Linked DNA regions of Homo sapiens: all the other regions are reported to be linked to region 1. Evidence: microRNA targets listed by miRTarBase, many of them from high-throughput screens and not tested one by one. Region 1 holds a microRNA gene; each other region holds the end of a gene's coding sequence. Distances are between the middles of the regions.
The links. Region 1 holds the annotated microRNA hsa-miR-340-5p (UUAUAAAGCAAUGAGACUGAUU, at 2,100-2,121, shown strand). A microRNA usually pairs through its seed, bases 2 to 8, with sites in the 3' UTR of a target mRNA and lowers its output. Matches are read on the target gene's strand: a 7mer-m8 pairs with bases 2 to 8, a 7mer-A1 pairs with bases 2 to 7 and ends in A, and an 8mer does both.

Region 2: miRTarBase lists SNX24 as a target of hsa-miR-340-5p. The part of its 3' UTR that is shown has no 7-base or 8-base seed match.
Region 3: the mRNA of TM4SF1 is a reported target of hsa-miR-340-5p. Seed matches in the 3' UTR shown: 7mer-A1 at 3,882-3,888.
Region 4: the mRNA of MPHOSPH9 is a reported target of hsa-miR-340-5p. Seed matches in the 3' UTR shown: 7mer-A1 at 3,952-3,958.
Region 5: the mRNA of LTAP1 is a reported target of hsa-miR-340-5p. Seed matches in the 3' UTR shown: 8mer at 2,207-2,214.
Region 6: miRTarBase lists INTS8 as a target of hsa-miR-340-5p. Seed matches in the 3' UTR shown: 7mer-A1 at 4,001-4,007 and 7mer-A1 at 3,854-3,860.

The regions. Positions count from the first base shown.
Region 1 is chr5:180,013,482-180,017,481 of GRCh38, reverse strand. MIR340 (microRNA 340) reads left to right here and starts at 2,085; the gene lies at 2,085-2,179. The region is part of intron 2 of RNF130 (ring finger protein 130); the gene reads left to right.
Region 2 is chr5:123,007,148-123,012,484 of GRCh38, reverse strand. It overlaps SNX24 (sorting nexin 24), which reads right to left. Exons shown (of 7, transcript NM_014035.4): 7 at 3,280-4,803. The coding sequence ends at 4,736. It overlaps LOC124901213 (small nucleolar RNA U13), which reads left to right and starts at 2,845; the gene lies at 2,845-2,943.
Region 3 is chr3:149,365,600-149,370,953 of GRCh38, forward strand. TM4SF1 (transmembrane 4 L six family member 1) reads right to left here. Exons shown (of 5, transcript NM_014220.3): 5 at 3,423-4,281. The coding sequence ends at 4,267. Among named protein-coding and RNA genes, the nearest start is that of TM4SF1, 9.4 kb to the right of the region's middle.
Region 4 is chr12:123,152,764-123,158,117 of GRCh38, forward strand. It overlaps MPHOSPH9 (M-phase phosphoprotein 9), which reads right to left. Exons shown (of 24, transcript NM_022782.4): 24 at 1,452-4,145. The coding sequence ends at 4,044. Among named protein-coding and RNA genes, the nearest start is that of PITPNM2, 4.4 kb to the left of the region's middle.
Region 5 is chr1:154,203,614-154,208,967 of GRCh38, reverse strand. LTAP1 (lipid transport auxiliary protein 1) reads left to right here. Exons shown (of 7, transcript NM_001098616.3): 7 at 1,320-2,248. The coding sequence ends at 1,515. It overlaps CFAP141 (cilia and flagella associated protein 141), which reads left to right and starts at 2,635. Exons shown (of 4, transcript NM_001010979.3): 1 at 2,635-2,693; 2 at 3,330-3,370. The coding sequence starts at 2,661.
Region 6 is chr8:94,879,687-94,884,945 of GRCh38, reverse strand. It overlaps INTS8 (integrator complex subunit 8), which reads right to left. Exons shown (of 27, transcript NM_017864.4): 27 at 3,200-4,828. The coding sequence ends at 4,712. CCNE2 (cyclin E2) reads left to right here. Exons shown (of 12, transcript NM_057749.3): 10 at 2,054-2,165; 11 at 2,657-2,814; 12 at 3,201-4,722. The coding sequence ends at 3,314. Among named protein-coding and RNA genes, the nearest start is that of CCNE2, 13 kb to the left of the region's middle.

The DNA.
Region 1 (4,000 bases):
CTGAGAGCATTGAGTGAAAGGTTTTTGGGGAACTGGCTAGTCACACAATCTGGAAGTATCAGCCCACAGATTGCTTATTAATTAAGAGGAAAACATTTATTTACAGTGAGGAAACCTGGCAGATACCAAAATAACCAAGTCATAAAATTTGCCACCAAAAATAAAGGTACAACCCGGCCTGCACTTCCTGAAGTGACGAGCTGAGGAGGGACACGCCATCACCTTGTGGTATTCTTACTAGAAATATTTAATTTGGAGATCTAATCATTAGGAAACAGTCAAATCCAGATTGAGGGGCATGGTCAGAACATCTGGATTGGACTCTTTAAAAAGGTCAGTGTTGTGATGAATGGACCGGAAGTGACTGAGGAACTATTCTAGATCAAAGGAGACTAATGAGACATGACAGCTAAGCATGATGCCGACAGCCCCGATTGAATCCTGGACACAAAACTAAACAAGTTAAACAGCTATTAAAGTCATCACCACAGATACCTGAAAATGGACCATCTATTAAAGAACACAGGGTTAAATTTCTTGAGGATAAGTAAATGAATTGTGGCCACGTAGCTAGCCTTGTTCTTAGGAGGGACCGTGGAAGTATTTAAGAATAAAATGTCATGTGTTTGCAGTTTACTCTTAATTGGTTCAGCAAAAATAAATACATATAGAAAGGACAAAATGTTGACAAATCTAAATAAAAGGTCCATGAGTGTTCTCACAGTATTGGAACTGCTCTATGGGTTTGAAAATTCTCAGGATGAAAGTGGAAAGAATAGAATTGTTTATTAAAGTAGCCAGACTCAAGCAGTGTGGAAACAGAAGTTCCTGTTAAAGAATAACAGTGGGGGAAGTTTCTCAAGAAAATAGTTGGAAGCAGGGATCACAGATGGGCTTTCACTGGATTGCCATCTCTGACAGTTAGTACTGGCGGCCAGACGTGGAAGTGCGTGGGAGCGTGGCCGCATCCGTGACTTACTAGCAGTGTTTGCCCAGGGCCTGGGACATGGGAGTGGTGGGGCATGTCCCAAATGTGCTTTGATATTTACAGCGTTACAGTCTAATTATTCTTCACTCTTTTCAGTCACTGCCTCCTCTGACCGGCCCTTTATTGTGAAGCCTACATTTCCTTTGGCGTGAAACTGGGCCAGAGCTCCTCAGATCCTTAAAAGTCAAGTGTCTGAGGCAGCTTTAGGTCAGGGTCTTTGAGCCCTATCAGGCTTTAGGGGTGGAGTATGGGGAGAAGGCCCTTTCTCCTAGGAGGGGACTCCTATATAACTTTCGCCAGATTCTGTAAAAGATTTAAGACCTAAAACTCCAGTCCTTTGCAAGTTGGTGGCGGGCTTTCGTTCTGCTGTCCTCCTGCCCGATCGGCAGGGTCGGGCTCCTCTGCCCGGCTCTTCTCTGTGCTGGTGTAATGACGCCACCGCGAGCGGCTTCTCTTCCTAGTCCAAAAGGTTCCCCCTTTGCTCCTGAGGGCGTGTGGATTTTTGCATCAAGAGCAGGTAATTTTCTACTCTCTTTAAGAGGTGAAAGGAGCCTGATCATAGTATGTGCTCAATAAATATTGTTGAATGGATGGTTGAAATAATTACACACTTCTTTTCCCAAACAGCTTTCCCGTTGAAATTAGTTGGTGTTCTTATTTAGTGTTCTTTGAATAGAATCACATGGATTGGTTTCCTTGGCTACCTGTTCAGCTTTCCTTTCCCTACTCCTTTCCCTACTCCTTTCCTACTCCTTTTCCTACTCCTTTCCTACTCCTTTCCCTACTCCTTTCCCTACTCCTTTCCTACTCCTTTCCCTACTCCTTTCCTACTCCTTTCCTACTCCTTTCCCTACTCCTTTCCCTACTCCTTTCCCTACTCCTTTCCCTACTCCTTTCCCTACTCCTTTCCCTACTCCTTTCCCTACTCCTTCCCTACTCCTTCCCCTACTCCTTTCCTACTCCTTTCCCTACTCCTTTCCTACTCCTTTCCCTACTCCTTTCCTACTCCTTTCCCTACTCCTTTCCCTACTCCTTTCCCTACTCCTTTTCCAGCTTGAGTCTTCAAGAGGGAGCCTCAACTGATTTCTAAAACCGTTTGTACCTGGTGTGATTATAAAGCAATGAGACTGATTGTCATATGTCGTTTGTGGGATCCGTCTCAGTTACTTTATAGCCATACCTGGTATCTTATACCACAGATCATGGCCCGTTGAACAACATTTTAAGAGATTTCTAAAGGGAAATTTAAAGCGGTTTAGCATTATTTTGTGATTGTCTCTAATTTACTGATCACAACTCTTATTTCAGAAAGGTAATTAGATATTAATTAGATGTTTATTGCTTGCTTTAATTTTATAGTTTTTTGTAGATTTTTAATCGGTATTCTGGTAAACTGCTGTTCTAATAAAGTGGCTGTAACAATTTTGAGTAAGGTAGTAAAAAGGTATATGTTCCATTGGGTTACATTTTCCATAAAACTCCTTTTACTGTTGTATTTCTCTTCTTTTTTTTGAGGGTCTTGCTCTGTCACCCAGGCTGGCGTGCAGTGGCGTGATCTCAGCTCACTGCAGCCTCAACTTCCTGGACTCCAGTGATCCTCCCACCTCAGCCTCCTGAGTATCTGGGACCACAGACATGTGCCACCATGCCTAGCTAATGTTCCTGTTTTTGTGAGAGACAGGGTTTCACCATGTTGCCCAGGCTGGTCTTGGACTCCTGAGCTCAAGCAATCCACCTGCCCTGGCTTCCCAAAGTGCTGGGATTATAGGCATGAGCCACCACGCCCAGCCCTGTTGAATTTCTTTTCAGTTGCGTGTAGTCTTCTGTGACTGCATGTAACACAAAGATGGTTCTTTTAGCTAAATATGGTAAATGAAACATGTAAAACCAAATATTTCAATGTGTTATTCATTGAAGAAGGATTGAAAAGGACAAGTTTTGGGGACTTCTGCTTGATTGTTTTGTTGGTTTACATTGATATGTACAAACCTTATTCAAATTCAAATAAGTGGTTATAATTTTCTCTTTCCCAAAATAAAATATTTATTTCCCTTCTAATGACCCCTAGTCTCTCTCAGGGGCTCTCTGGAGAAGGCAAATGTAGAAGCTACATGTTGCCACCGGCAGCTTCAGCTTATGAAAGGACAATCGCTGATAGATTGATAGAAGTTTCTCTGTTTCCTTAAAAGACAGTGGGAAGTTATTTCCTTTGTGGAGGAGGAAAGGGATAGCAGTTTCCTGCTGTCCATAGGAAGAGGTATTCAATTCCTTCACTGTTACTACTTCTGGAAATTATGTAGGGGAAAGGTCTAGGTAACTATAAGGCAACTTAAGACTGTCCTCGTAATTAACTTGCATAGCCTGTGCTTGTGGGCAGACCTCTGGACAACTGTTAGAGGCTGGAGGTATTTCGATGCCAAACTGGTCCAGAATGTTGAAGCCTGGACCTGTCTCTGGAACGTTTGATTTCCAGAAGAGTTCTGGGGTAAACTAGCAAGGAGCCTCAACTCCACTCAAGTCTGGACATAAGACCCAAGTTAGTTTCAGATGTCACTAATAAAAGGTGGCACCATTTGGCACTTTGTAGCTCTGTTACCAGCTGTGTGTCCCCTGTCTCAGTGAGATTAGAAAGCTTGGTATCCTGTACTTGTTTTTGTTCCTGGCACTAGTTCTACAGACAGTGGGTACTCCATGAATGTTCCTAGATTAGTGCAAGAAGTACCAATTTATGCTATAAAAACAGCACTTTACTCCATTTCTTAAGGAATTAAGACTTTCTGAAGATCATTTTAAAATAGAAAAGGTTTTACAGTGTAAATCTACCATGATGTTGATACACTTCTCTTGCTGTATAATGTTATGTTGCTGTCTGTTGTCACATTTGGCTGGTTTAATAATCTTTTTTTAAAAATGTAGTTGTCAGACAAGTTAATATGGTTCTTAACACTGCAGTCGTTCTATGCCTTATGTCTGTTTAAGTCTTAAGTACCACACAACAAATTACATGTTCCT
Region 2 (5,337 bases), 57 Mb from region 1:
AAGTTCCACTTTCTGTCTCTATAAATTTGACTACGCTAGATACTTCATAGAAATGGAATCATACAGTATTTGCTTTTTTGTGACTGGCTTATGTCTCTGAATGTCTTCAAGGTTCATCTGTGTTGCAGCATGTGTCAGAATTTCCTTTTTATCCATTCATCCATTGCCGGACACTTGGGTTGTTTCCACCTTTTGGCTACTATGAATATATGCTATGAACATGAATATATGTATTAGTCCGTTCTCATGCTTCTATAAAGGACTGCCCGAGAGTGGGTAATTTATAAAGGAAAGAAGTTTAATTGACTTACAGTTCCACATGTCTGGGGAGGCCTCAGGAAACTTACAATCTTGGCAGAAGGGGAAGCAAACACATCCTTCTTCACATGATGGCAGGAAGGAGAGGTGCCAAGCAAAAGGGGGAAAAGCCCCTCATAAAACCATCAGATCTCACGAGCACTCACTCACTATCATAAGAACAGCAGCATGGGGGTAACTGCTCCCATGAGTCAATTACCTCCTGGCAGGTCCCTCTGACGACCTGTGGTGATTATGGGAACTAAGATTAATTCAAGATGAGATTTGGGTGGGGACACAGCCAAACCATATCATTATACAAATAGCTGTTTGAGTCCCTGCTTTCTTCTTTTAGGTATATATCCAGAAGTGGAAGTGCTGAATCACATAGCAATTCAATGCTTAATTTTTTGAAGAAGTTATACCATTTCCCACAGAGGCTGCAACCATTTCACACTTCCACCAGCAATGTACAGTTACAAGGGTTGCAATTTCTCCACCTCCTCACCAACACTTGTTATTTTCTGCTTTGATAGTAGCCATCCTCACAGGTGTGCCAGAATTCTTCTTGATGCAGCACTTCAAGCAGCCATTGTCAATCGATCAAAGTTGACAAATGAGATGAAAACCATCTGTTATTTCAAAAGTGTGATCATATTTCTCTAAACTGATTAAGAGAGCTCAACTTCTTTTCAATGGGAACTTATAACTGTAACTGTAGGATTTACCAGGTATTGATGGTCATGGTGATATTGGGGTTGTTCACATGGCTGATTGTAATGGGGGCAGTAACAAGGACACCAGGAGAAAGGACACGAGGGCTGCCAATATGCAGAATGAGTAGGCAGAGATGAGGCCTGAGAGGCACTGCATAAGGTAGCATCGAAGACAGTCCAGGCAAAACACCAAGTCCAGGAACCAGGCAGGACAAATGATGTCCCCACATCCTGACTTAAGTGGTAATGGGATTTTTTTTTTCCTTTTCCTTCCTCTGGTTTCCTTTCTCTGTCCTTTACTTCTCTATTGCCTGTGAATCCATGGTTTGAATGATTAAAGTTTTTGATATTTCCCCAAGTGCAGGGTTCCAAGCATGACTTGGAATACTATTAACACTGTGGTCCATGTGAATGACACTGCTTGGACTTGTGCAATGCACAACCTGTAGAGCAATATGGGCCAGGCATGCCTAGTGAAATCGAAAAGTAAAATGTCTATCAATATGGTAGTGGTTACACAAATTATAGAAGATCCATACAGCTTTTTTTTTTTAAAAAGAGAATAGCACTTTATATACTGATACAGAAAGATTGCCAAGATATTGTTAAATAAAAAAAAATAGAAAGCAATGGGTATTGCGTGCTACCATTTTTGTAAAAGAGGAGAAATTAAATATATGTACACTAAACATACAATATCTGCTTGTATGTAGATGAAATATTACTCAAAGTAGACACATTAAGTACAGACACATTAAGTACTCCCTTCTGTGGAACGGGAATTCGGTATTAGGAGATGAGATGGGAGACAAATTTATTTTTTATCTATAGTTTTATATATTTTTTATTAAATTTTCAACCATGGAAATGATGGAAATATGTTCTGGCTGGGCACGGTGGCTCATGCCTGTAATCCCAGCACTTTGGGAGGCCAAGGTGGTTGGATCACGAGGTCAGGAGTTCAAGACCAGCCTGGCCAAGATGGTGAAACACTGTCTCTACTAAAAATACAAAAATTAGCCAGGCGTGGTGGCATGCGCCTGTAATCCCAGCTGCCCAGGAGACTGAGGCAGAGAATGCTTGAACCCAGGAGGCAGAAGTTGCAGTGAGTTGAGATTGTGCCACTGCACTCCAGCCTGGGCAACAGAGCAAGACTCCGTCTTCAAAAAAAAAAAAAAAGTTCCATCATCTTTCCCATGTGCATTCCTGAGCTGTAGAAGGCTAGCAGCTTCTTCCCAGACTCCCTGCACCTGGGATGGAGAATAAGGTTCTACAAACTGGATGTGCGTTGAAGGGAGCTATGGAGTGGGAGGTGGGAGTGGGCGAATACCATCCTCCTGCCACTTTGGGCTGTGGTTGCTGGCAAGCAAGGCCACGGATGTTGATAGGCAATTGTGATGCAGGCCCAGTCACCAGCTTCCTGGGTGCTGCTATGAGGCCGCACCTCATAGAGAGATCGCCATTATATTTCCTGGGAGCTCCGTATCTCATGGAGATAACAGGTCCTTTTTGATTCTACTTGCTGATCCCTGGATTGCAGCTCTCATGCTGTTTACCTCAAGAGCTTCGCTCACAGCCCCCTAACTCCCTGTATTCCTGCTTACAGCACAGGCTGTAGCTCCCCAGGCAGGTCAGTGCTAGAAGTTGCTGGGGCATTCTGGAATTTGTTCTTGGACACCTACCAGGAGTGCACTCCTCTCACCCTTCCAACAGATTCTGTAAGCATTCAGTTTTCAGCATTATAGCCTTTTCTGCGTAAAAGACCTACACTGGTTTCTAGTTCCTTCAATAACCCTGACAGAATTACACATTAAAAGTTTAAATAGATATGATCCTTGTGTAGTGCATAAGTGTGATGACTGGGTTTTCCCACTCTTGTGAGGTGTGCCTCCTGCAAATCTTATGATGTCTGCATATGACTTGTTTGACATGGGAAATAAAATTTACATAAATATAAAAAGCGAAAGTCATCACTAAGAAAAAACTTAATTCTCAGAAAAGATTTCTTGGGCAGTGTACCACTATAGATACTTGGTTTTTTCAAAAAAATTCTTATTATCTTGGTAAATCATCAAATATTTAATGAACATCTACTGACTTAATAGATGAGATAATTTATTATAATAATTTATCTTATCATATTAGAAATAAACATCTATGTGAATGTGTGAGAGGTTTTGTGTGTGCACATATGTGTGTGTGTGTGTAAACAGACAGATACAAACCATGTTTCCAGTGAAATCTTAGGAGAAGACAAACTCAAATGTTTCCTTGTTCTGTTTTTATTTAACTCCAAATAGCTAATAACATAAAAACATTTTAAAAAAATCTCCAATACCCAACTATTACTTTTGGTTGACAACATTTGATTATTTAGTTCTTGCTTGTTTCCCACATGTAGTACAGAATCTATCATAATATTTTAAAAGTTTGCAGCAGGCTTAAAACCTGAATATTTAGATCCTAATCAAAAACCATGATGTAGTTATTAGTTTTGATTTTAAATACCTTGCTCCCACAGAACTTACTAAAACGAATAACCATAAATAGGCTAGCTATTAATTAGATCTCAATGAAATGCCCACATACAGCACATACATATAGGTAGTATATATGCTTTTATCCTTTACTACTCAAAGGATGATGTACAGTGGAGTTATATCATAAACACATTTAACTTACATTAACTCAACAAATGAGGTCAGTGAAAAGGAAGCCGTAAGGAAAATAACATGAAATCCTGTGGCGATCCCACCTAAAATGAATGCACACCCTTGAGTAAACCCAGGTGGGTGCTGTCCATCCGCTGGGTGGGCGCTTCACTCCTTGTCAGTTCACATCTGCCACTAGCGGGGCAAGCATCTTGCGGGCTGATTCTAGTGTTAAAAGTTATGTGCTTTTTTTTTTTTTTTTTTAACAAAATGGCCCCTAAACAAACACCAACAACTTCACTTGGTCTTCAAACAAAGAAACAGTCTTTTTTTCCAACATAGGAGGAAAAGCTACTTGTTGTGGATGTACAGGTTTCCAACATGGCACCCTTCTAAAGGGCTTTCAAGGATCATCCTAATAGCCCATTTTACCTATGTACTGACCTTGGAAGCTAACCCCTGAGTATGATGCAACTCCACTCTAATGTAAATTAAAATGCCATGATCTTAAAAATGCCATAATATTGTCAGTATAATTTAATTTCCAGTTTAGTTCCATCTTCACATTTAGCAGTGTGTGTCTGTGGCCGTCTCCTGGTGCCAGCATTTCAGAATGTACTATCACTGGCTGAGAAAATCTCACGGTGAGAAGAGTAGTGTGTCATAAGATCTGAACAAAAAAGCTACCAAAGTTGATCAGTCTCAGTATGATTCAGGATATGATTTTCAATTAGCAAATGGTGCGACTGAAGCAGAGAGTGGCTTTGTTTTGCTACACCCAGTGCTCCCAGGAATCTCCTGTGGCCTCCTTTTCATGGGTTTCTACGCTGGCAGCTACACTCTACTTCTTAAACACTTGGCCTTAGCCTGACCACCGCCCCGGTTCAGTTTCTATTTTTAAGAGCACCATTCTAATGGAAATGTCCCTGCCCTGAATTAAGCTGGGACTGTGCACTTTACCACTAGCTAGAGCTGTTATATATCATAGCGTTTAGGTTAAATTGGTAGGTATTGATTTCCTTGACTGTGACTTCGAAACTTGCTTCTGCTTCTTTTAGCCATGTAGGATTTCTACCTGGGCTGTAGATGAGGGTAAAATATCCCATGGAGGACTCCTTCAATAACCACATTTGGAAAATCTGAAAAAAAGAAAAAAAAAAAGAAAAAAAAAAGAAAAACTGCTTTTCTTATGTGAAACAAAATATAATTGCATTCTGTAGAATGGAACAAGGCAATGCTTACGGTAAACACAGGAATCTGCATCGCCAGGCATGTGCCTGGTTGAGGATGTGCTATCAGTCATGCTGCTTCAGCCTAAAGCCACTTGAGCACACCACCAGGCGCGGCAGGAATGTGCGGCCAGATTTGTAGCTTATTGATTTAAGGGATGTTCTAACAGTTAATGCTGCTAGGCCTCAGCTCTTTATCTGAATGTTTTCTCAAAAGGAAGATGGATTACACTGGCAATTCAATTTCTAACAAAATCTCAATATACTTGAAGGAATTCCAAGATTTCTACTGGGAATACCTCACTGCAGTTTTTCCATTGTGGTTTACAGTGCATTTAGTCCAAGTTGTCCTGAGTCTACTTGTTCCATTAGACTAGCTTCGAAAGAGAGCAGTAAGATGGGGGTCAGTCTTCCTAACTTAAAAGGGCAAATTTCCAACAGAAG
Region 3 (5,354 bases), not on the chromosome of region 1:
GTGTCTAAATTTGCCAGGACTTGCATACACAAACTATTTAATGTTAAGAGAAGGAGGGCCAGGTAGGGTGGCTCACACCTGTAATCCCAGCACGTTGGGAGGCTGAGGTGGGAGGATCACGACGTCAGGAGTTCGAAACCAGCCTGGCCAACATGGTGAAACCCTGTCTCTACTAAAAATACAAAAATTAGCCAGGCATGGTGGCATAAGCCTGTAATCCCAGCCACTTGGGAGGCTGAGACAGGAGACTCGCTTGAACTCAGGAGGCAGAGGTTGCAGTGAGCAGAGAAAATTAAAATAAGGAAAATCCAAGCTGTAGTACACAAAGCCCTGATAAAAAGCCAATGTTCAAAGTAAAGGTATGCCATTTCGTTTTAAAATACAGAAAACAGATACATGGTTGATATTTGTAAAAATCTTACTTGGTGGCTTGTCTAAGAAGAAACTGTGCACTTAACATTTCCCAAACATGCAATTGAAATTATAGGCTCCCCATTATATTTTTAGCCTATGGTTACTGCCAGCCTCACCTGGCCCATCCCTTCACCTAATTGCAGGCATAATTATTCCCCTGTATTTACTGTAGGATGACTCCTCTGTCCAAGCACAAGAACAATGGTTTTCTTACATACCTGGGGAGTTTCCCTTAAAGACTGCGGGCTCCTCCCTGAATTATTTTAGGACTGAATCTTTCTTCTCATCTCATTTTTGTTTTATTTCTAAAAGTAATATGTGCTTATGGTAGAAATTTCAGAAAGTATAGATAAGCGAAATGAATCAAGACAAAAATCACATTGAATCTGATTGAAATTCCTTTTCAGTAATATATTTAAAGGGTATTTATAATATACATATACCTAGTAGAGAAAGACATAGAACCCTTCTTTTCTATATTTTCGAAACTTTCTCTTTCATGTAATGTTGTGCGGTTCATACATTTACCCTGATTTAACAGCCACTGACTACATTTATCAAACCAATTCCTTGTTATCAGAGATTTAGGCTCTTGCCATTTTTCCTGGTGTTACAAACAATACTCCCATAATTATTACTGGAAACTGAACTATTGTGAACATCCTTGATGATTTTCTTAAAATAAATTTCTACAAGTAAAAATACTTGGCTAAAGGATGTGTAGGCTTTATATATTGTAGACACAGATCACCAAATGGCTTTTCTGAAAAGTTGCATCAAATCCCATACCTGTTCTCACCATGGGTAAGCATCAGAGAAAACAATGAAAAAGATCTCACACACATACAAGAAACTCATACTGTGGTAAAGGTAGCATTCTATCAATTGTCTGAGATTTCAGTGCATGAGATTTCCTTTATGTAGGAATGTATTTGTAAATTTGGTCACTATGGTAAATTGACACTCAGAGGCCACGTGTACTATTCAAGTGATTCAGATTCTACAGTAATTTTTATTGTTTTAATGTTGTCAGGTAAGAATGAGCTGTTTTAGTACAACCCCTGAGGGAGTTTCCAGCCAAATTGAAAGGCCTAGAATATTACAAACCAGGAGCGTAGGCTATAAACAGAACTTAAGGAGGGTGTAAGGTAATTTGTGTAAGCTATTTCCTTCAGGTGATGACAATGTCTACTATTAAAAGATTCACAAACAAGGGGAAATGTTGAGTCACTCAAACTTAGGCTCTAGGATAGGGATGACTAAGGCTCTCAGGGGCCTGTCAAAGTCCCCATTAGGTGGGTGGAGTATCTGAGTGCCAGTGTAGGATAGGAGGAAGACTCTAGCCCCTGGGCCCTGGTGGCAGAGCAGGTAGATGAGGCAGAGGAGAGGAGCAGGGAAAACACCGTGTTCATGTTACACCAACTTGGAGTTAAATCAGTGTTGTTTTTTTTTTTGCTACAGTGTTTTTCATTTGCTAAAGATGTGGCCTTGGACAGATTACTTAACCTCACTGAGCTTTGAGTCTATAAAATAGAGAGAAGTAATACCTTCTAGGGCTGCTGAGAGATTTCAGTGGAATAGTATGTGTAAAACTAATTACAATAAGTGACATACTGAAGGGACTCAAGAAATTGTTGCTGTTATTATGATAATGGTTGATAATTATTATTGCTATGTCCTTTGAGGATAGATTTAGGAAAAAATGATGCTTATGACTGATTATTATGCCTTTTATCTTGGATCCTGTATTGCAGGGGTTTTTAATCTGGTGTCCAAGAATTCCCAAAAGACCCCATGGATAAATAACTGGGGGAGTGGGGTGTTAAACTTAGATGGGAAAAAAGTGTCATTTTTTACTAACTTATAACAAAAATTTAATATTTCCTTTAATTATGACTATGCAACAAACCAAAGTAGCATCAGTAATACTGATCATACTTTGATCTACAATAAAAATTTGCATATGTTTTCATATCACATTAAATTTGCTGCAGGTATCTCGAAATATCATTTTAATTGAAATTGTATTTCAAAAGTATGACAGTTAGGGGGCTGGGGGGCAAGGGGAGGGAGGGCAAATACCTAATGCATGTGGTTGATGATGGGTTGATGGGTGCAGCAAACCTCCATGGCACGTGTATACCTATGTAACAAACCTGCACGTTCCGTCCCAGAACTTAAAGAAAATAAAAAATAATAAAAATAAAAATAAATAAATAATAAATGTGCTTAGCATATTGGCTAACTCTGCTCAGTGAAAAAAAAAAAAGTAGGATAGTTCTTAGACCGACTCCTTAGAAGGCTGTTAGGACACACGTTATTGCTATCCACAGGTGTTGACGTGACAGAGCTGGCTGTCAAGACAACTACACTATATGTTTAAAAAAACATTTTCATAAAATATTCTAGTGTATTGGTTTTCTTCATAATTCTATGCATTTTATGAATTTATGAACATTATTCTTCGAAGGTGTCTGTAGGTTTCACCAGCCTGCCAGAGGGACTATGGTACAGAATAGGCTGAAACCTTCAGTCAGGAGCCGCCCACTGCAGGGCAGCTTGCCCATAGGAGGAGCTCTGCTGTCTAATAGCTGGTTATGCTTCTTTATAAATTTGCTTATCTGTTGTCCAGACCAATGAACACCAAAAACGGAACATTTCTATAGAAAATTCCCAATAAGTCCAGGAATCCTGTCACTTGAAAGAGCCTAACCCTGTACAGTAAGGAGAAAAATGCCTGTTACCCTTCCAGGGAGGCTGATACTTGCAGCACCTGGTAGAAAGGACCAGTGCCTAACTGGGGTGATGATCCCACAGGTACAGCAATGGCAATTTACAGACAGCAGAGAAAGAAGAGGAGAAAGAGGATGAGAGAGTAGGATAAAGAAACAAAAAGACAGGAAGCCGTTAGCAATAGGGGCCACATAACTTGCAAACTGGAAAAAAAAAAGGGGGGGGGGGAGAAAAAAGAGAACTTTTAAGGATAATGAAACTAAACAACAACAACATGGTAGTGAATACTTTATTTTGTTGTAAACAAGTTAGTTTTGAGGGTATTTCCTCGTGGTCCTCCTGCCGTCACTCGTCCCCATGTTCCAATGATGCTGATCAACTGCTTTATTCAGTTTCCCATCTTTCTTCTTGCCCAGTCATCGTAGCCTTTCTTTTTTTAAACACATGATCCCTAGTACTCATCTTTGGAGGACAAAAGGCTTTCCATATGTTAGAAAAATTTGAATCTCATAGTACTCACAACAATGAGCAGCATTGTAAGTTGTGATGCATTCATTTGGATTGGAACATTCTCAATCAGTCCTTCCACTCTAAGTAAATATTTGTTTCTCACAGAACACAAGGCAGTTCAAAGGGCCTCTTGTTAGAGATTTATAGGTGTATGAATGGGAAACATCATACAAGCAGTGAAAACAAAAATCTTTCCAGGTTGTCGGATTTTCTCCTTCTTGGTCTTATAAAAAGCAACTAGACATCTTTAATTTAAAAAATACATGCACATATATACAATAGTGATTGGAATGTTATTTTTATCCAAAACATTATAGAGTTTATCTCAGATATACTGAGTACTGTCACTCAGTCTGTAAATTACCCCCAGAGGGTGGTTTGTTTCCTCATTCCTTAAAAAAAAACAAAAACAAATAAACAAACAAAAAAGAAGTTTACTAAATTTAAACACTGACATCCTGTGAAGATGCCAGTCTTTACAGGCGTTTGTAAAAGTAGACTGTGGGGAGTATGTTACACTAATACAAAGTTTTACAAATGAATACAAGTGAAATATATAAATTACAATGAAATAGAGGAAGATTGTGGCTCTGTCCTGGGTTGGTTCTTTTAGCAGTCATATTGCTGTAGAGAAAATAAAATACCATTAGGCTATAATCAGGATAAATAATGATGACATTTTAGTCCTTTAAGTTCCTATTTTAAGCAAACATAAACAGACTGATCTTAGCTTCAGCAAAGCTTAGGCCAACCATACTTAGGGCTTGGACAATGCTCACAAAATGTTTCCTAAACAAACCCAGATCCCTTGTCTTCCATGAGTAAAGGCTGCAGAAAGGGCCCATAGAAACTGCAGGATACTGATATTGGGTTGCTTTGAGTGCATTTGTGTGGGGTTTTAATCTTAGGGATTTAAAAGATAATGCCATGGAAGTTTCACACTGGTATGAGCTCAATGTGGGTAACCTTTCAAATTAAATGCTACCGAGTTATGGACCTGACTCTTCTACATGAAAAGACCTGCCCTTTGAAAGTGTCTTTTGTCTTATAAACAAAGGTAACAGATCTTCCCTGTAGTATCTGGGAAGAAGCCATCCCTACAGTGACTCAGCTGGGAAACCTGGTGTATTTACTACCCCAAATCAGAGGAGAGTATCATTCCCTGCCAAATCACTTCAGCCATTTTGGTCATTGGCTCTTTATGCCTGTCCCCAAAACGTACTAAGTGAGTACATTTAGTACAAGTAATCACTTACTTTGAACTCTGCCTTGTATGAAATTCAAGGCTAAAGGTAAGCTGCATGACAGCAATCCCTAGAGGATACTTCTCTGCCCTTCCCCAACCGTACTGCTTGAAAGAAGCTCCATATTGAAGGTTTCCCATTCCCTTATTTTCTTGGAAATTTGCCAAAGAAATTATTAATCTTGCTATACTTGCCTGATAAGGAAAACTAGATTTTCATTTTAACCTTCCCCCAAAATTACAGAAAGTTTCCTTTTATTTTCAGCAAAGTTTTTCATGGTAGCAATGGGCTTTCAGTTTTCATTAGGTTTTTGTCTTATTTTTAAAAGAAAGTTAACAGATCTGGCACCAGAGGAGTAAATGGTTTGAAAAATATAAGACATAAAATAACCCTCTCAAAGATAGGATCAAAGCTGGACTTTCATTAATTCAATAATATATATATTTTAGGAGG
Region 4 (5,354 bases), not on the chromosome of region 1:
ATAGTGGATTTAATCAAACCTGCAACTGTCAACCATACATGGTCCCTCATGACAGGTAAATATAATCTACCTGTCTGAATGGTAAAAGGCTACAGGTGTGCATTTATTTTTTAAAGCTTCTTAAAGACTCATAGCACAAGTGGCACATTGAAATCTAGTGAAAACTTGAGATAATCTAAAAATTAAAGTGACAAAAGTGTCTAATTTTACTACATATGTAGGTGCAGAGTTCAGATTTCAAGTAGCGTCCAGCAAAGCACGTGGCTTTTCTGGGCGAGAAGGGGATAGCTTTTGGTTGGCTATCACAGACTCCACCTACATCTCCTAACACCCACTGGCAGGCACTTCCTGTGCATGGTTCTGCCCACAAGCTGTCACCTTTAGATGAAACATTTGAAGGGGCAATTATTTGGAGGATACTGGCAATAATTTTTAGAAAAACAACCTATATTTATACCAAATAACCCCCAAGTCACCAATTAAGACCAAAGTGCTTTCTGAACTTACACGTGACAGGTTATCAAATTTGTTAAATTTTTGGTGGCTAAAAAACCAAACACACCAGAGGGATGCTTAATTTAAACTCCAAAAAAGCTCATTTTTTTGCAAAGCGTGAAGAGAACATCTTAGACCACCTAACAAATGTCAGTCCAAGGCAGTTTTTAGGTCAACTGCTTCGGACATAATCTACTTTTTTATTTCAGAAAGTATGCTACCTCAAGGCTGGGCGCAGTGGCTCACGCCTGTAATCCCAACACTATGGGAGGCCAAGGCAGGCAGATCATTTGGGGTCAGAAGTTCAAGACCAGGATGGCCAACATGGTGAGAACCCCGTCTCTACCGAAAATACAAAAATTAACCAGGCGTGGTATGCACCTGTAATCCCACCTACACGGGAGGCTGAGGCAGGAGAATAGCTTGAACCCAGGAGACAGGTTGCAGTGAGCCAGTATCACACCACTGCACTCCAGCCTGGGCAACAGAACTAGAGACTCCATCTCAAAAAAAAAAAAAAAAAAAAAAAAGGATGCTACCTCAAAAACCTACTTAACTCAATGAATCTGAAATATAATATTTCTTGAGCACTTACTAAGCACCAGGCACTTTACAAAATCTCCCTTAATGAAAGGAGTTTTCTTATTTCATCTTATAGCTGAGAAAGGCAGGCCTGTGCCAGGATGTGACCCAGGTCTCTCTGGCTCCAAGTCTCTCCTTTCTTGTCCCCTGAGCCCAGCTCTGCACAACCCTAGCACGGCCACTTTAGCTACATCTGTTGCTTCAGTTGGAAAAGTCCTTCAGTTGCAAAGACCATTTCCATACCTCAGGAGTAGCTCCTGCAAACAGAGGCTTAGCAAGGGAAAGGAAGGGGGCAGATCCAGGCATCAGGGGAGAGTTCACTTTCTATTTGCATTTTAAAAGGCACTTCCCAGAGGTGGCAGATTTGCTTAGGGTTTTTTTTTTTTTTTTCTTTTTAAACTATTAATACCTGCAGCAAAGCCCCAAGCCAACAACAAAAATAGTTTATACCCGGGGATAATAGCTGCTATTTAGAATTGCCATCTTTCCTGCTTTTAGGTGGAGTGTTTTTTCAGTTGAGTGTTCATAAGATAAGCATTACCGAAGAGAAAGACAGCAGAAAGAACTTTCCTTGGTATCCCTCTTCACAGCTATGAAGAAAAAAGAATACATTTTTTAGAAATAAGTGACTGATAGCTCCAATCTATTACACACTTCAAATATCAAAGCATATGCTGAGAGAGAGGCGCAGAAGATGTTTTGATGGAGGTTAACGCCTTTTTTGGAATAAGCCAATATAGGCTACTAAGAAGATAATTCCTTGGCAAGATAAAACTATCATCTCTTCTGAAATGGCATTTTTTAATTCTTAAGAATGTAGTAGATTTTACAATAAAAGTAGGGAACAAGGAAATATCCTAACAATTTTCAAGTTAGTTTTTAATGTCATATCCAGGAACACATTAAAGGTGGTCTTACTAGGTCTTGACACAAGCTGTACTGGAGCTTGATTAAAATGAACATTTTCTTTACCAAGACTAGATTTTTTTTTTCTAAAGGCTAGAAAACCAAGAATAAAGAATACCAAGAATAGGCCGGGTGTGGTGGCTCATGCCTGTAATCCCAGCACTTTGAGGGGCCAAGGCAGGCGGATCACATGAGTTCAGGAGTTTGAGACCAGCCTGGCCAATATGGTGAAACACCATCTCTACTAAAAAAAAAAAAAAGATATATACATACACACACACACATAGACATATACACACACACAAAATTAGCCGGGCGTGGTGGCAGATGCCTGTAATCCCAGCTACCCAGCAGGCTGAGGCAGGAGAATCGCTTGAACCCGGGAGGCAGAGGTTGCAGTGAGCTGAGATCATGCCATTGCACTCCAGCCTGGGCAACAAGGGCAAAACTCCATCTAAAAAAATAAATAAATAAAATAAAATAAAAATAAAAAACAAGAATAAAGGCACTTGATTCTAATTATAAGTAATTTTGATTAGCCTGAAGTCTTCAAAAGTTGCAGAGTAGGGAGCAAAGGTTCAACTGCACTGTCAGACAGGCCACCCTCCTTGCTGAGAAGGGAGCAGGGCTGTGGACCCCTGGCCTGGGGACCAGCCAGGTGAAGGGTGCTCAAAGGTCATTTGAGAGCCTGCTTGGAATAACTGGGATGGCTTGGTTCATTCTAACTACTTATTATTAAGAGCCACATAAAGAGGAAAAGCTCAAAAGCAAACCAAAATTTAAAACCTGAGCATGTTTAGTACGAATCCATTTTGAAAGTTTGGATGAGTCTGTTTATCAACATGTACCGAGCTGGAATATGTGGGGCACTGCGTTCTGATTGGCTACCAAAAACTAAGTAGTTACACAGCTCCAACTTAACCAGCAGTCCCAACACAAACCTGCCAATGCTCCTGGATCAGAGGAGAGACTCCTGCCCACGTGCTACTTCTGAGAGCCAGCGGCTACCACAGAGGCAGTGGGCTGGAGCCCTCTGCAAGGCCGAGGGGAAGGCACCAGGCTCCATCCGGACACACTCCCTGTCCATTAACAAATACAGTAGATTGTGATGATCTAAAGTCTAGTGTTCTTACAGCACCTACAGTGGAAATATTTTCCTTTTGGCCAGGGTGAAGGAGTGGAAAGGGGTGAACATATCCAGATGACAACTATGACGGACAGCTGAAGCCATGCACACTAAGAAAACCAGGCTGCCCTCTTAATCCCTCACGGGGTGGTGGCTTGTATTTCAAAGGGTTTATCTGTCCATTTATTGTCCAGGGTGGGACACAAGTTAATTCAGAACAATGGGCAGAGAGCTACTCTGAGAGCCCTCCAGAGAGGGCTCTCCAATTGTTTAACTTTTTTAGAAAAGATAAAATTAGAGAATTACAATCTCTCTTTTTTCTCTTACAGACAATAAAGTTTAAAGAAAATGAGTTATATTCATGTAGTTTTCAAAGCTTTCCAAGAGTCCATTATTACTATTCTGATATTCACTCTAAGACACGTTTCAAATACGAATTGCATTATCATTTTTTAAAAACCTCAACACAACTGAAATCCAAGGTACACTGTAATTGTTTATGTATTCAGCATGTACTAGTCTATCATTATGGAAGCTATTAAGCTTTATTTTTTAAAAACTGAATTGTATTTACAATGTAGAACAAGTCTATAAAATTGATGTGCAGTTAATTGTAAAAGGATAACACTATTTGTTTAGAAACAAGCTGCTTCCTCTGTTTATATTTCCTTATTCTTGATATAAATTGGAGACAGATACTATTTAAAAATAATGCTTTTTAAATAGTAAAATATACAAGAGATTCCTGAGCATAACAAAAATATCTTGAAAATATGTGGCCATTTGAAGTATAAAATAGCAAGTGTAAGAATAGCATGATTGTAAAACTACTGTTTGAAGGCTTATAAACAGTACAAAATAGTTTGCCTTTTCTGACTGCATAATTATACATTAGTGCAAACAAAAATGTCTCAAAATTTAATGGCTACAAATCTCAAAGATTTGCAGAGGTGCGCAAAACATGGAATTTCTTTAGCGTCATGCGAACTGAACCCAGTTCTCGATTAATCCTTTCCAAACGATCTTCCAAGGCTTCCTAGGTGAAAACAATGGGAAAAGTTTAATTAGAATTCTATACCAAGTTCTATAATCACCACCAAACTGACCTTTCTTTTAGCAAAAGAGCAAGTATAAACACTAAAATTACAATTATTTTGCTTTCTACACGAAACATCTTATGATTTCTTTTAAACTGGACAATATGAATTAGCTTTTCAACTATTCCAAATAACTGCTGTACTTTAAAATATTCTCAATATGTTTGACACATTGAGTATATGGAAATTCTAGTAATAGCAATACAACCAACTGGAAGAGGATAATTCTTTGGCTCTGCTGAAGTGAGAACAGTACAAGAGGAGCCTAGGAGGTGCTTCACACATTTCACCAGAAGAAATGGACACATTTGATCAGTGCTGCATCCCACACATACATAGATCAAATAACTTTCTTCTCACCAAAATTTCTAAGTTAAAAAGGAAAAAAAAAAAACACTGAAGGATACTTTTCTTAAAAAAAAAAATAGATTTCACAATGAATTAACAATTGCTATTTTAAAATAAACAATATTACTGTTAAATAATACCTGGACTATATATCATTATACATACTTCTGTGTTTTTGTTGAGACAGGGTCTTGCTCTGTCACCCAAAGCTGAACTGCAATGGCATGATCATAGCTTACTGCAGCCTCAAACTCCTGGACTCAAGCAATCCTTCCACCTTAGCCTCTCGAGTATCTGAAACTACAGGCAGGCACCACCACACCTGGCTGATTTTAAACATTTTTTTTTTTGCAGAGACAAGATCTCACTATGTCACCCAGGCTGGTCTCGAACTCCTGGCCTCAAGTGATCCACCCACCTCGGCCTCCCAAAGTGCTGGGATTATAGGCATAAGCCACTATACCCAGCCTCATTTTAGTTAATTTATTCAGTATTAATTCCAATGGTGTCCTGAAATAAAACTTAAAATTTTTTTCTTTAATTATAAAAGGATTATAGAACACTTAGAATATAGAAAATTTAGAAGACAAATAAGCAAAAAAGAAAAAAAAACTGTTCCTCTTTCCTGTTTTTTCTGCATACATATATATGCATACCACTTTTATTTTATTTTTTTTTTTTTGGTTGGGGGAGACGGAGTCTCGCTCTGTTGCCCAGACTGGAGTGCAGTGGCACAATCTCAGCTCACTGCAACCTCTGCCTCCCAGGTTCAAGCGATTCTCCTCCCTCAGCCTCAAAAG
Region 5 (5,354 bases), not on the chromosome of region 1:
AAGACCAGCCTGGCCAACATGGTGAAACCCTGTCTCTACTAAAAATAGAAAAATTGGCTGGGCATTGTGGTATGCACCTGCAATCCCCAGCTACTCGGGAGGCCGAGACAGGTCGCTTCAACCTAGGAGGCAGAGGTTGCAGTGAGCCAAGATTGTGCCACTGCACTCCAGCCTGAGCAACAGAGAAAAAGACTCCATCTCAAAAACAAAAAATTATGTTTGATTTGTAGTTTCTAGGAATGTTCATTGGGTTTAGTGAAGAGTATAGGCTTTGAAATCTGACAAACTTAGGTTTGAATCCCAGGTCTGTCACTTAACTAGTTTTGTGACCTCATACAAGCTAATTATTGGACCCTTAGTTTCCTAATCTGCAAAACAAGGTGATACCTATATTGGGGATACCTGTCTCTGAAAAAAAAGCTTGAGCCAGAGGCAAGAACTCTGGGAAATTGGTTTCTCTGCTGCTAGTTGTTTTTGGTATGAGTAGGTGTGTGTCAGGGTACCCAAACAGGGCCTTTATTCTGTCACCCAGGCTGGAGTGCTGCTACTTTTTTAGGGTGTGTGTGAGAGAGAGAGACAGGGTCTCAGTCTGTCGCCCAGACTGGAGTGCAGTGGCACATTCATGGCTCACTGCAGCCTCGAATTCTGGGTTCAAGCGATCCTCCTGCCTCAGCCTCCTGAGGAACCAGGACTACAGGTGCTTGCCACCATACCTGGCTAATTTTTTGCAGAGATAGGGTCTCACTTTGTTTCCCAGACTGGTCTCAAACTCCCCTGGGCTCAAGCGATCTCTGGCCTCTGCCTCCTGAAGTGCTGGGATTACAGGTATAAGTGACCATGCCCAGCCTCTCTGCTACTTTTTTTTTTTTTGAGATGGAGTCTTGCTCTGTCACCCAGGCTGAAGTGCAGTGGCGCAATCTTGGCTTGCAACCTCTGCCTCCTGGGTTCAAGTGATTCTCTTGCCTCAGCCTCCCGAGTAGCTGGGATTACAGGCACCCGCCACCACTCCCAGCTAATTTTTGTATTTTTAGTAGAGACAGGGTTTCACCATGTTGGCCAGGCTGGTCTCGAACTCCTGACCTCAAACAATCCACCTGCCTGGGCCTCCCAAAGTGCTGGGATTACAGGCGTGAGCCACCGCGCTCAGCCTCTTGTATTTCTAAGCTACTAGATGGGGTTTTAGTAACTAGTTTACAAAATAGGACAGATAGGACACAAATAACTATTTGTGACTATTGCTGCATTTATGGCCTGGGATAAGCCCTGATTTCTTTGATTAGTCCTCATTCTGTCAATGACCTCCCCTCTCTGTTCTTCAGGGTTAAAGCACGAATTGGGAGCTCTCAGCGACATCACCAGTCAGCAGCCAAAGACCTAACTCAGTCCCCTGAGGTCTCCCCAACAACCATCCAGGTGACATACCTCCCCTCCAGTCAGAAGAGTAAACGTGCCAAGCACTTCCTTGAATTGAAGAGCTTTAAGGATAACTATAACACATTGGAGAGTACTCTGTGACGGAGCTGAAGGACTCTTGCCGTAGATTAAGCCAGTCAGTTGCAATGTGCAAGACAGGCTGCTTGCCGGGCCGCCCTCGGAACATCTGGCCCAGCAGGCCCAGACTGTATCCATCCAAGTTCCCGTTGTATCCAGAGTTCTTAGAGCTTGTGTCTAAAGGGTAATTCCCCAACCCTTCCTTATGAGCATTTTTAGAACATTGGCTAAGACTATTTTCCCCCAGTAGCGCTTTTTTCTGGATTTGCATTCAGGTGTTATTCTTAATGTTTCTGTCAAAGCTTCTTAAAAATCTTCACTTGGTTTCAGCCATAGTTCACCTTCCCTGTTCCAGGTTTATTTAATTCCAAAGGTGAGAGTTGGAGTGAGATGTCTTCCATATCTATACCTTTGTGCACAGTTGAATGGGAACTGTTTGGGTTTAGGGCATCTTAGAGTTGATTGATGGAAAAAGCAGACAGGAACTGGTGGGAGGTCAAGTGGGGAAGTTGGTGAATGTGGAATAACTTACCTTTGTGCTCCACTTAAACCAGATGTGTTGCAGCTTTCCTGACATGCAAGGATCTACTTTAATTCCACACTCTCATTAATAAATTGAATAAAAGGGAATGTTTTGGCACCTGATATAATCTGCCAGGCTATGTGACAGTAGGAAGGAATGGTTTCCCCTAACAAGCCCAATGCACTGGTCTGACTTTATAAATTATTTAATAAAATGAACTATTATCAAATAAAACGTATGAATCAGTCCTTTATAGTTGTCTTTTAATAAAACAGGCATTTGATAATGTTATCTGCACATTTCTAACAGGGTATAGGGCATGAGGATTTGCCTCCAGAGAATTGGTGGGACTGTGTGCATACCCTGGACCTACGACCATACACATACTCCTTGGGACCCTAGCACAAGAAATCCTAAAATCAGGACTGTGGCCCTTGCTCATAGATGCCTGTGTCACCAACAGAAGGCTGCAGAACAAGGATTCTCTCAAGGTTTCTGGGGCAACAGGCCAGGTGGCCAATCAACTCCTAGGCCCAGGGTTATTGTTGGAGGTGTAAATGTTACTATGACTACTGAAACCTTGGTTACTGAACTAAACAGAGGAGCCTGTCAGTCTCCTCAGACTGTATCAAGCAAATCTATAGACATGTCTGTGGAAAAGATGACAAAAGTAGAAGAGGTATGCAGAGTTGGAAGGAGGGGCTGGGTTGAAGTTTGATGAAGTTTCCAGATCAATTTACTATAAGTGCATCTTTTACTGGGAAAGGCTTTTGATGTAACAAGGGTATAATGTAGTTAGTAACAGGAGTGGGAGGCTGTGTCTAGTACACAGTAGGTATTCAAATATGTGTTCTATCCAACCCCTGCGTGTTTTCTTTGATCCATTCTGAAAGTAGAGCTTTCCTCTCCCTATTTCCCCCCAGGAAATTGCTTTCTCAAAAAGGTCTATGTGGCTGGGTGCGGTGACTCACGCCTGTAATCCTATCACTTTGGGAGGCTGAGGTGGGCGGATCACCTGAGGTCAGGAGTTCGAGACTAGCCTGACCAACATGGAGAAACCCCATCTCTACTAAAAATACAAAATTAGCCCGGCATGGTGGTGCATTCCTATAATCTCAGCTACTCGGAGGCTGAGGCAGGAGAATCGCTTGAACCCGGGAGGCGGAGATTGCGGTGAGCCGAGATCACGCCACTGCACTCTGGCCTGGGCAACAAGAGCAAAACTCTGTCTCAAAAAAAAAAAAGGTCTATGTCTCTCATTAGAATAGAGGTTCTGGAGACTGAGGCAGATCAACAGAACTACCTTTTCTTGCAGAGTTTTCAAAAGGCCATGGGACTTAAGAAGACGGTCGACAGGTAATCTGCTTCTATCCCCTCCCTTTACCTTTGAGCTTGACCTTTCCACTCTGCTGTCTTCCCTGAGCCACCTCCCAACTCTGCTGCATCTCTTTAGGGGCTCATCAAGAGGAAAACAGATGCGGAAGGGGTGAGAAGCAGCCTTGTCCTCAAAGCAAATGAGATCAGCCTCTTAGTGCCTACTAGGTTAGGTGATATAGATTGGTTTTTATTGTCCCCTGCCTCATTCTCTGGAGAAAAATTGAAGCATGTTTTTATTTTCTTTTTTTATCAAGAATTCAAGTATTTGTTGCCTGGCTTTGTACTAATTATGTGGTTGGTAGTGCAGTATTTGTTGAACCAGTGAATGAGAAGATTCACAAGACTGGGCTACGTATCCTTTTCACCCTGATGAACTTTTGAAAAAACTGATGCAGCCGGGCGCGGTGGCTCACGCCTGTAATCCTAGCACTTTGGGAGGCTGAGGCAGGAGGATTGCCTGAGCTCAGGAGTTCAAGACCAGCCTAGGCAACATGGTGAAACCCTGTCTCTACTAAAATACAAAAGAAGTTAGCCAGGCATGGTAGTGTGCGCCTGTAGTCCCAGCTACTCGGGAGGCTGAGGCAGGAGAATTGCTTGAACTTAGGATGCGGAGGGTGCAGTGAGCCAAGATCGCACCACTGCACTCCAGCACTCCAGCCTGGGTGACAGAGCAAGACTCCGTCTCTACAAAAAAAAAAAAAAAAACACTGATGCAAGCCTGGCATGGTGGTTCACACCTATAATCCCAGCACCTTGGGAGGCCGAGGCAGGGGGATTGCTTGAGCCCAGGAGCTCGAGACCAGCCTGGGCAACATAGGAAAACCCTGTCTCTACCAAAAAAATTAAAATTAGCTAGGTGTGGTGGTGCATGCCTGTAGTCTCAGCCACTCAGGAGACTGAAGCAGGAGGATCAGTTGAGCTCAGGTCAAGTGATGCCACCACTGCATTCTAGCCTGGGTGAGAGAGGAAAACCCTGTCTCAAAACAAAACAAAATGAGCTGGGCACATTGGCTCATGTCTGTAATCCCAGCACTTTGGGAGGGCAAGGCAGGTGGATTGCTTGAGCTCAGGAGTTCGAGACCAGCCTGGGCAACATGGCAAGACCCCCATCTCTACCAAAAAACTTAATTTAAATAAATAAATAAGCACTGATGCCTAGTTCTTAACCCTAGGAGATTCTGATAAAAGTGGTCTGAAATGGGATAGGAGAAGCCTTTTTTTAAGGTTTCACGGGTTATATCCAGAGCTAGCAAGGATGTGAAGAAACAAGAACATATATGATTTTAATAGGAGTCTAGGTTGATACAGCCATGTTTACAAAGGCAGTTTGATAAAATCTATCAAAATTTAAATTTACATATCCATTGAACTGGCAAAAATAGGAATTTATCTTAAATATACATACTTGGAAAAGCACTAGAAGGTACATACACAAGAATGTTCATGACTATTGCTTTTATTTATTTATTTATTTATTTATTTATTGAGATGGAGTTTCGCTCTTGTTGCCCATGCTGGAGTGCAGTAGCACGATCTCAGCTCGCTGCAACCTCCGCCTCCTGGGTCTAAGCAATTCTCCTGCCTCAGCCTCCTGAGTAGTTGGGATTACAGGTGCCCGCCACCACACCTGGCTAATTTTTGTATTTTCAGTAGAGTCGGAGTTTCACCACGTTGGGGTTTCGCCATGTTGGCCAGGCTGTTCTCAAACCCCTGACCTCAAGTAATCGGCCTGCCTTGGCCTCCCAAAGTGCTGGAATTATAGGCGTGAGCCACCACGCCCGGCCTGATTACATGTTTTTTAAAAAAGAAGATGTACTTCCCAGTTTATGATAGAAACATTTTCTGAAAACATTCACAAGTAGCTGGGTGTGGTGGCTCATACTTGTAATCCCAGCACTTTGGGAGACCAAGGCAGAGGATCACTTGAGTGCAGGAGTTTGAGACCAGCCTGGGTAACAGTGAG
Region 6 (5,259 bases), not on the chromosome of region 1:
AAACTTTTGACGCATAAAGTTCTGTCCCCAGTGTTTATGTTGCTTAATATTTCTAGAAAAACAAAGTCCTTACACTTTTCTGAGTACTTTCATTCTTTAGGAGTCCAAACTAAAGTATCTCTTTTTGATATAAAATGGGGAAAAGCATTTTTTTCGCCAGTTGTGTTTAAGCTTTATAATGGCATAGAATTATTCTGTATGATGTCTTTACATTTGGATACACAGAGTGCCTATCAAGTTAAATATCAGAATTAAAATTACTTTGTTAAAAAAATTTTTTAGAACATAAATTCAAAGTAAACTTTTCCAGGCTAGCATATTTAACAAAGTAAGTAAGTAGAGGAGGAGGAGGATCTGGCCGGGCACTGTGGCTCAGGTCTCTAATCTCAGCACTTTGGGCGGCTGAGGCAGGCAGGCAGATCACTTGAGGTCAGGAGTTTGGGCGGCTGAGGCAGCCTAGCCAACATGTTACTTGGGAGGCTGAGGCAGGAGAATCGCTGGAACCTGGGAGGTGGAGGTTGCAGTGAGCCGAGATCGCACTACTGCACTCCAGCCTGAGCAACAGAGCAAGACTCCATCTCAAAAAATTAAAAAAAAAAAAAAAGAGGAGATCCCATTCTTTCTTGCTTACTTCTCGTAAGTAATCTTAAGGCTGCTGTATCTGCCATATAACAAAAGTGAAGAAAATCTACCCTCTTATTCTATGTGGGATGTGAAAATCTAACATATGGAAGACATTTGGGGATAATTATTAAGTCACCTAGGTTAAAATTTGTGGGCAGTGGTGCTTAAATCTAGCACATTATGAATACTCAAATTGGATAACCACTAAGTATACTGAAATTGGTTTATTTTATAAAACTTTTTATTAAAAGCTTAATTTTTTCATCCAGAATTCCTAGCATCCCAAATTGTCCTAGGCAGCTATACCCTTCTGATAGTGATGGTAAATCTTTGATAAGCCGATAAACAATGTGGACTTTCTAGAGGTATATAACAGTAATATTTCACTTCCAATTCCCAGCTCTTCTCCCATTTCTCCTACCTTCTGGACCAATGAGGACAAACAGAATTGAAGTTTAATTCCACTGCACAAGTATCTTCTCAAATCTGTGAAATCTACCCCTTTTACACTATACCATTCCACTGCTACTAGTTCAGCTCTTATTGCCTAGATTATACAGCCTTTTAACTAATCTCACTGCTTAATAAACATGTTTTCTTCTAGTCTGTCTGCTTCACTGCATTCTAAGGTATCTTTCTTAAAATGGAACTTTGATTTAAAAATCTTCCAGTAGCTTCAAGAATCAGCCTATAAAATTCTGACTTCTTAAAGACCCTTTGTGATCCAATCTAGACCATGCCTCTTTCTAGCCACCACCCCTCATCTTTCTTGATAAGAAATGAAGGTACTCCTTATTTATTTTTCACCTTAGGAGTTCTGAACTGTGAACTGAGTTCCAAGTAATGTCCCTATACCTAGAACATTCTCTGCCTCCTACTCTTCCTGGCTCCCTTATCTTTTAAGACCCATTTATGGCAATTTGAGGCCATCACTATCTTTTCCAATCTGGATTAGGTGCCCTTCCTGCTAGTACATGTCACACTGTATTGCAACAGTCCTTCCTTGTCTACTTCCTTCAGGTTGGTGGCTTGTTTTTTTTTTTTTTGAGACGGAGTCTCGCTCTTTCGCCCAGGCTGGAGTGCAGTGGCGCGATCTCTGCTCACTGCAAGCTCTGCATCCCGGGTTCACGCCATTCTCCTGCCTCAGCCTCCCGAGTAGCTGGGACTACAGGCGCGTGCCACCAAGCCCAGCTAATTTTTTGTATTTTTTAGTAGAGGCGGGGTTTCACCGTGTTAGCCAGGATGGTCTCGATCTCGTGACCTTGTGATCCACCCGCCTCGGCCTCCCAAAGTGCTGGGATTACAGGCGTGAGCCACCGCGCCTGGCCGGGTGGTGGCTTATTTATCTCTAGATCCCTAAGGTTTTAGCAAGAGACATTTAGTACTCATCTTTCTCCTAAATTGCTTGTACTTTTGTTTTTCCTGTTAGCTTTTAGATCTGTGTATTCTAGCCATTGATTCATTAGAGTTCCAGTACAGAATACTGACTGCTGCTGCCTTGTGCCATTTTACCTCCATTGAAGTGGTTAAGAAAGCCTCAGGTAAGACTCTCTATTTGTTGTCTTCTTACCTTTTCACAACTTCTAATGGGACTACAGTCTCTGAACTTTAACATTCTGCTAAACATGCATTTAAAACTTTGGCAAAAAAAAAATTAGCTGTTCAGTAATTATCTTTCTGTTAGAAGTACTTTCCAATCCTGAATGTGTATCAACAAAAAGACCAAATGGAATTTAAATACAGTTGAAATGAATCAACATTATAGTTCTGCTTTAAGAGTTCTTTGGGATTTGACCATTTCAATTTCATATGTAGAAGGTACTGGTTAAGAAGTTCTGAAGTCCTTTTTCCCTTCAACATAGTCATGTAAATAGTTTGAGAGTGATAATCTGTTTTGACATGCTAAACTTCTTGGTTATGATTTGGTTTCTTTTAAAATATCTCAAAAACAGCAACAAGTACATCAGACATATGTAAGATAGTTTCTGATGTACAACCTTCATGCTTTTCTAACTTTTTTCTATCTATCTAGGTTTGGAGTGGGACAGTATTTCAGAATGTGTAGATTGGATGGTACCTTTTGTCAATGTAGTAAAAAGTACTAGTCCAGTGAAGCTGAAGACTTTTAAGAAGATTCCTATGGAAGACAGACATAATATCCAGACACATACAAACTATTTGGCTATGCTGGTATGTTTTTTTGTGAGTTTTTTGGCTTTGCTATCTGAATCTAGTAAGTCACCAAAACTGATGGTAGGAATAGAGTACTCCTTCAGGCAGTTTCAGGGGAAAGAAAGTTCTAAGGGGCACACTGATTTCAAAATGTAGAAAAGTTAATAAAATTACTTTGAAATCAAAGCAAGATTTGTGAAGTGTCTCAAGATCAATGCCAACAGTCTAGATAAAGAGTTTAAAAAATATATAACGTTACAGAAACTTTCAGAATATGACCCTTCACACTTGCAAAGACATAAAAAGACTATTAAAATTAGGCCTAAATAATCTCAAATAAGTACCCAGAAGTCTGGTTTGACTTTGATTTATGAAATCAGTGCATGATTTCTTCCCATGTATAGGAGGAAGTAAATTACATAAACACCTTCAGAAAAGGGGGACAGTTGTCACCAGTGTGCAATGGAGGCATTATGACACCACCGAAGAGCACTGAAAAACCACCAGGAAAACACTAAAGAAGATAACTAAGCAAACAAGTTGGAATTCACCAAGATTGGGTAGAACTGGTATCACTGAACTACTAAAGTTTTACAGAAAGTAGTGCTGTGATTGATTGCCCTAGCCAATTCACAAGTTACACTGCCATTCTGATTTTAAAACTTACAATTGGCACTAAAGAATACATTTAATTATTTCCTATGTTAGCTGTTAAAGAAACAGCAGGACTTGTTTACAAAGATGTCTTCATTCCCAAGGTTACTGGATAGAAGCCAACCACAGTCTATACCATAGCAATGTTTTTCCTTTAATCCAGTGTTACTGTGTTTATCTTGATAAACTAGGAATTTTGTCACTGGAGTTTTGGACTGGATAAGTGCTACCTTAAAGGGTATACTAAGTGATACAGTACTTTGAATCTAGTTGTTAGATTCTCAAAATTCCTACACTCTTGACTAGTGCAATTTGGTTCTTGAAAATTAAATTTAAACTTGTTTACAAAGGTTTAGTTTTGTAATAAGGTGACTAATTTATCTATAGCTGCTATAGCAAGCTATTATAAAACTTGAATTTCTACAAATGGTGAAATTTAATGTTTTTTAAACTAGTTTATTTGCCTTGCCATAACACATTTTTTAACTAATAAGGCTTAGATGAACATGGTGTTCAACCTGTGCTCTAAACAGTGGGAGTACCAAAGAAATTATAAACAAGATAAATGCTGTGGCTCCTTCCTAACTGGGGCTTTCTTGACATGTAGGTTGCTTGGTAATAACCTTTTTGTATATCACAATTTGGGTGAAAAACTTAAGTACCCTTTCAAACTATTTATATGAGGAAGTCACTTTACTACTCTAAGATATCCCTAAGGAATTTTTTTTTTTAATTTAGTGTGACTAAGGCTTTATTTATGTTTGTGAAACTGTTAAGGTCCTTTCTAAATTCCTCCATTGTGAGATAAGGACAGTGTCAAAGTGATAAAGCTTAACACTTGACCTAAACTTCTATTTTCTTAAGGAAGAAGAGTATTAAATATATACTGACTCCTAGAAATCTATTTATTAAAAAAAGACATGAAAACTTGCTGTACATAGGCTAGCTATTTCTAAATATTTTAAATTAGCTTTTCTAAAAAAAAAATCCAGCCTCATAAAGTAGATTAGAAAACTAGATTGCTAGTTTATTTTGTTATCAGATATGTGAATCTCTTCTCCCTTTGAAGAAACTATACATTTATTGTTACGGTATGAAGTCTTCTGTATAGTTTGTTTTTAAACTAATATTTGTTTCAGTATTTTGTCTGAAAAGAAAACACCACTAATTGTGTACATATGTATTATATAAACTTAACCTTTTAATACTGTTTATTTTTAGCCCATTGTTTAAAAAATAAAAGTTAAAAAAATTTAACTGCTTAAAAGTAAAGTTTTGCCATTGCTTGGAGAAACTTTTTTTTCCTTCTCTGCGCTGCCAGCTGTAACACTTCTTCTGGATTGCTTGCATTCAACTCTGTCTGGCCGATGGCTTTGATCTTCCAAAACAGAAAAGTGATGTTATTAGAGGTGTGTCAAAAATTAAGTTTTGTTGGTACAAGTAATATAAAGCTACCTACGTGCTAACAACGATACAGTTTAATGATTAACTGAACCTCTTAACTGTAAAACCCAGGAGTCTTGGAAAAAAATTAACATAAAGATTAACCAGGGCCACTCTCAAGGAAAGATGGACTGCTGAGCCATAGTTTATGGAATTACTTAAGTGGCATTTTAATATATTAAGTAAATTCATGTAAATTTATTTGAAAGTATAAGTAAGCTCTACATGGCGATTTTTAGAGTTAAACTAGGGCTCCACTTGTTAATGTGCAAAAATAACTGGTGGCTCAGCACTATGGTAGCATATAGTTGCTCAACTTTTCATGATTAGAAAGAAGTGCCTCAACCAACTAAATATACACACTAG